Linked DNA regions of Homo sapiens. The protein of the gene in region 2 purifies or fractionates together with the protein of the main gene of each other region. This does not show direct contact. Each region holds a gene or a part of one and is shown on either strand. Other genes may lie near its edges.

What was found. The genes of interacting proteins can lie anywhere in the genome.
Region 1: the proteins of TBCC (region 2) and NTM purify together in Homo sapiens (affinity purification with mass spectrometry; one large-scale study listed by BioGRID and IntAct). This does not show direct contact.

What each region holds. Positions count from the first base shown.
Region 1 is NC_000011.10:132,332,615-132,334,968, reverse strand, and holds part of NTM (neurotrimin isoform 9 precursor), read right to left. Parts: exon of another isoform or gene 2,206-2,354; intron 1-2,205.
Region 2 is NC_000006.12:42,743,998-42,747,370, forward strand, and holds TBCC (tubulin-specific chaperone C), read right to left. Parts: upstream 2,107-3,373; 5' UTR 2,077-2,106; coding exon 1,036-2,076; 3' UTR 501-1,035; downstream 1-500. UniProt on the Homo sapiens protein: Tubulin-folding protein; involved in the final step of the tubulin folding pathway.

The sequences.
Region 1 (2,354 bases), on a different chromosome or scaffold from region 2:
CATTTGGCCTTGCCCCTGGTGAGTCATCCCTCTAAGTGAAACACATGGTGTTCCAGCCCCAGCATTAGAAGTGAACGTTCTATGGCCCACATCCCCAAGACACACACACTAGATAACGGGAAGCCTTCCCCTGCAAGGAGAGAACATGAGGCTCAGGTTAAAGTGTCCTGGGCCTTCTTCCTTACTGTGTCATAACATGCAAAGGCCATGGCTCAGGCTCAAATTCAAGAAGAAGGTGGCAGATTCATTAATATCCTACACAGAGCTTTAATAAAGTCAGACTACTGTGCTGAGTGCCTCATCACCCATCCACTTCTGAGCACTGCCTGCCTGAAATACTCACCCACCCTCCAGCTGCTTGGCCTGTGGCTCAGAAAAGAACCTGTTGGACAAAACAATGTGTCTGCCTGCTGCTTCTGCTTCCTTGGGCACAGAGGCCATCCTGCCAATCACTCTATCTCAGGGCAGGGCACCTGGGTTCCACCTGGAGCACTTGACCTCTTCCCCATCTGGATGGGGTAAGAGCAGATGCAGCTCAAGGATCACATGCCTGCAAGGCCGAAGCCAGCCCACATGGATGGAGGTGAGTCAAACAAAGGAACAGGAAGCCTTCCTGTGCATGTGGATGTAACTGGAGATCAATGAGGACACTGGGATGCAGAACCTGCCCCAGTGTATGGAGATGGAGACAAACACAGGAGGCAGGAGAACTGCAAGGCAGTACAGTTCCCCAGCAGCTTCCCTATTGTTCTGAAACATACGTTTTCTGGCTACCTCGGCCCTTGTGGCCAAGAAACCCCATGACCAGTGGAGCTTTGATTTCTGTAGAGTACATAAGTTTGGATGCCCAGATGAATTAGCTACTCAAGGAACCAGGCCACCTCCTCAGACTGGACCTGCTCTGGCATACTCTGTTGCATTGAATTTAATAGAGGTATTTAAAGCTGGTGGCCTCACTAAGTCCATGTCTTCCTGGATTAGGGAACAAGGAACAAAGCCAGAACCTGCCTGCCTGACTTGGATGCTCAGCGTTGGATACATTTCTGGCTAAAACAAATCAAAATCAAAACAGGCTTCTCAATTCCATGTGGGATTATTCCATCAAGTCTAGAACTCCTGGCTAGGAGGCAGTGCCCATATGATTTTATGTCTTGGCCTTTTGGGATAAATCCCTAATTTGGGGGCGTGGCTAAATAGGTAGCCATGAGATTGAAATGCAATAGGTCATCAACCTCATGTTTCCCTGGTGTCTGATTCACAGTATCCCTAAGGCCGGAACTTCTCAGAGGTGCAGATCCCCATGCTGAGAAGCCCAGGGGATACTTATTCTCTCTACCCTGCATTAAGGAGAAAACACAAAACCAAAGGCATCTGTGCTAGGATACAGGTGACCAAGGAGCACTCCTGTAAAGCTCCTGCGGATTTAAATCTCAACCCAGAAATGCTTGTCATTTAGGATCGGTCACTAACTGGTTGTGTCTTCTAGAATCTAACTACTATGTGTCCACAGAAACCATCACCAGACGTTCCCCCTTTGTAGATGCTCACTCTGTCATCTACAGAGCACATTCTTTGGAATCAAAGGAGAGAAGCCTCCGCCGGATGCCTTCAAGGGTGAGAGACTATGTTTCTCTGCTCTGCGTAAGTCCTTCCCCTCTAGGCAACTCCAAGATTCTTCCAACCAAGGCCCTTGTCTGTGCCCGAGGCTGAGGACTCTGAGACGACAAGGGTGGTTCTGAGTCCATATGGCCCAGCAGGCCTTTATGGAAGCCAGGTCGAATGTTTTGCCTCAACACTGTGAGTGTTCACATTCATATGAAGATAGCTTCATATGCGTGAATCACACCGTACAATTCCATACGTGTCCTGCACACTGGAGTCCTTAACTCCCGGCAGGGGACACAGCTGTCAGCACACTGCTCTGCCTCTTTCATCCCTTGTGCTCTCCTGAACATCCACACACATCTTTGAAACCCATTTCCTGTTCAATTCCCGCACACTCCCACCTCCCGTCTCCCGCTCCCTCCCTGTGACTAAGAAGATGCCCTGGGTAAGAGATGGAAAACAAGTGCCGCTTCCCTGCACTGAGGTGTTCTCTCCTCTCTTCTGAACTCCCTCCTTGCAGCCTGACCTGCCAGTGGAAGCCTCCAGGGAGGAGAATGCCACAGCCAGGTGTTCAGCCCAGCAGGGGCCTGGCGTAGTTACCATGTAAGGGAATGCTGAAACCTTGTTTCCAGGCTGGGGACTCTGCAGCTCGGGAGACGACTGAGAGCGGGCAAACACCCCCTGTGGCAGATCTCAATGGCCCTGTGGCTATGCCAGGCGCTCTCCCTGGGTGCCTGTGTTTGGTCTCC
Region 2 (3,373 bases):
ACTGAATGTCTAGGGACAAAGGAATTACCTATGGTTTTTTGTTTTTGAGACAGTGTCTCACTCTGCCACACAGGCTGGAGTGCAGTGGCGTGATGTCAGCTCACGACAACCTGTCTCCCAGGTTCAAGCAGTTCTCCTGAGTAGCTGGGACTACAGGTGTGAACTATCATGCCCGGCTAATTTTTGTGTTTTTAGTAGAGACGGGGTTTCACCTGGCACCGGGTCTCCAACTCTTGACCTCAAGTGATCTGCCCACCTCAGCCTCCCAAAGTGCTGGGATTGCAGGCGTGAGCCCCCGGGCTCAGCTCTGGAATTTATTAAATATGTATCTATACCCTGACACTGCTGGTTACTGTCTATAATCCGAGTGTTTTGGGAGGCTGAGGCAGGAGAATTGCTTGAGGTCAGGAGTTCGAAACCAGCCTGGGCAACATAAGGAGAGCCCATCTCTTTAAAAACAAAACACACACACACACACACACACCAAACAAACCCATGTATTTACTGCAGACCTACTTTATTATGCACCGTGATGTTTCAAGTATCACAAACCATTACAAAGCAATATAATCACCCTCCTTCCCCCTTACTGCTTCAAACTATTGTGGTAAAAATAAATAAATAAAGCCCTGGCGTGGTGGCTCACGCCTGTAATGCCAGCACTTTGGGAAGCTGAAGCGGGTGGATCACCTGAGGTCAGGAGTTCGAGAGCAGCCCGGACAACATGGCGAAACCCCGTCTCTACTAAAAATACAAGTTCGCGTGGTGGCGCGCGCCTGTAATCCCAGCGCGCCACCACGCTGGGGGACGGAGTAAGACTCAGTCTCAAAGGCATGACGAAAATAGCAAAAATGCTTTAGTGTTATACCTGTTACGAATTTAATGGAAATTACAAGTAGGAGCCCATTACAATCTCTAGCCTTAAAATGCTGAAAACATACACAGTGTGACAATAAGTAAACTTCGAGACCCAATAAGGGGGAAAGTCCAACGTGGAAAGTATTTGGTAGGAGTGAAGAACAGAGTGACAACTGCTTAGTCCCACTGGATATTTCGCTCCTCTTCAGGAAGAATACTCCAGTTTGGGGAGGCCATATCCCGGGCCAGCCAGTTAAAATCGTCAACATCGTTCCAGTTATTTTTGCTCCTATCTAAACCAGAGCTCTCGAAGTCCTTGTCGATCTCCGGGTAGCTCCAGGTGTAAGGGGCGAACTGGATCCCACTGCAGTCCTCCACGATGGCCCTGCTGGTCACCTGCAGGAAGATGCGGGTGTCTTTCGTACTGTGTATGCGGAGCTGTTGGCAGGCCACTGCCAGCACGCAGTCACTGCAGTCCTCCAGGAAAACAGAGGTAGACACCGGACCGCAGAGCAGCTTGCAGCTGTGGGCCTTGGTTAGCCGCAGGGTGTTGGGATTTCCATACAGTCTGACCGTGCAGTTGCTCAGTTCGGTCAAAAGAACGTCGCGCTGGTGCAACTCGCTGGCTCTCTTCTCCAAGACTTGGGACTCCAGGTTGGAGAAACCGCAGACCCAGCTGGGGCCGAGGTCTCCTTCCGCCTTCTTGGGCAGCGGGGAGTCCTGTATGCTTTCAACTGCCGGGGGGATGCCAGGAGCCGCGTCTACTTTGGTAGACGAAGCAGCATCCTTTCCCCGGGTCTTGAAAGCGAAACGCTTCTTGGGCTGCAGCCCCCGGCGCCGCTCGGCCAAGGCCGCCTGCAGCCGCGCCAGCGCCTCTTGTCCCTGCCGCAGGTCGTAAGCGGCTAGGAAAAAAACTGAGTCGTTGATTAGTTTCTGCAGCCCCTGGAGCCGAGAGGCCGCCTCCTCCAGCCGCTCGACCGACTCCGCGCGCTCCAGAAGCTCTTCCACGGCCGCTCGCTCCCGAACAAAGGTGGCGACGAAAAAGTGGCTGTTCTCCTTCTCTACCTCCTGGTTCTGCCGCTTTTGTTTCCGCCTTTCAACTTCCAGCTGCCGTTCTTGTTCGCGTCTCTGAAGCCGCTCAGGCACCAGGCTCAGGTCCCGCTGGGACTCCATGTCTCCGGTCCTGACAGCAGCAGCGGAGCAACTGACGGACTCCATATTGGCTTCAAGCTTCCTCTCTCTTGTCTTCCTTCCTCCGGGCGCGCTGTCCGTGAGGCCTCCCACCAACGCGTCCGGTGATTGGCCTAACATGATGATGTCAGATCCCCGGCCTTATTTTCTTCGCCTATTGGTTCCTCTGCGTCGGAGGGGGCGGGGAGATGGGGCGGGGCCGACTGACTATGGGGGTGGGAAGACAAAGGTTCTTGTGGATGGGTGGGGTGGGAGGCAGGCGGGGGAATCTTTTTTTTCCTCTTAAAGGGGCAGGACTTATATCCGGGATTGTGGGGTGAGTTGCAGCAGCGGCAGCTGCACATGTGGGTTTGTTTATAAGAACAAGGTTAGAAACTCGCAGGCCTCCCCCTCCCCCCAGCTCCTCCCTACTACCCCCTTACAGGCCGGAGATCCGCTACTAGGGGTGTGGGTGGGAGGGATGAGTGCGTGTGGTGGGTTGGGGGGACAGGTAGTGGTGAGAAAGATGGAGCGGGGGGGAATATTGCACCGCCTGGCCCGCGCCGGAGGAAGCAGCAGCTGGAACAGCTGGCTGGGGAGCCGCTTGCATGCCTCCGGTTTTTTCTTTTCCCTTCCACCACCCCTTCCCCCAACCCATTTCTGCCTCCCCGTAGCCCTCATCCTTACCGCCCCCCTCCCCCCTATCCACTGCAGTTCGGCGCGGCCTGGGGGCTCCTGGATCCCCGCAGGCAGTTACTAGGGCAGGAGAAGGCAAGGGGCACTGCGATGGGAGAGACTGGGTTCCTCACTGCAACCTGGTTCGAGGGGCCCTGGGGGAGTCCATAAAAGGATTACTATTTTTTTGGCCAATTGCTGCAGTCGGAGGGGTGGGGGCGGGGGAAGGTGAGATCCACACCCCCTTCCTCTTTCTTCCCTGCCCTCCCCGAGCTCGGTCCCGGCCACTCCCTCCGCAGCTGGGCGTCGCCGGCCGCGCTGGGGTGAGACCCTAGCCCCGGGCTCCGTGGCTCTCTGGGGCGGTCGGTCTTAGGAAAGCGGTGGGAGAAGCGGTACATTATTTCTAGGGGTGGTGGGAGGGATTTGTCACCGGAAGTGAATGGCCTAGCCTAAAGTCGGGACCAACCCGAGGTGTGGGTGGGCAGCCAAGACGGCGCAGTCACTGGCAAAAACCCGAGGCAGCGGGCAGGGCGAGAACCCGAGACGCAGCCGCTGCCCGGGCGCGGCAGCCTCGCATGCTTCGCTCAGATCTGCGGAGCTCCCGAACCTCTTTAACCCTGCCCGCCCTTCCAACCCTAGGTTTCCTCCTTATATCCCCAGTTCCCAGCCT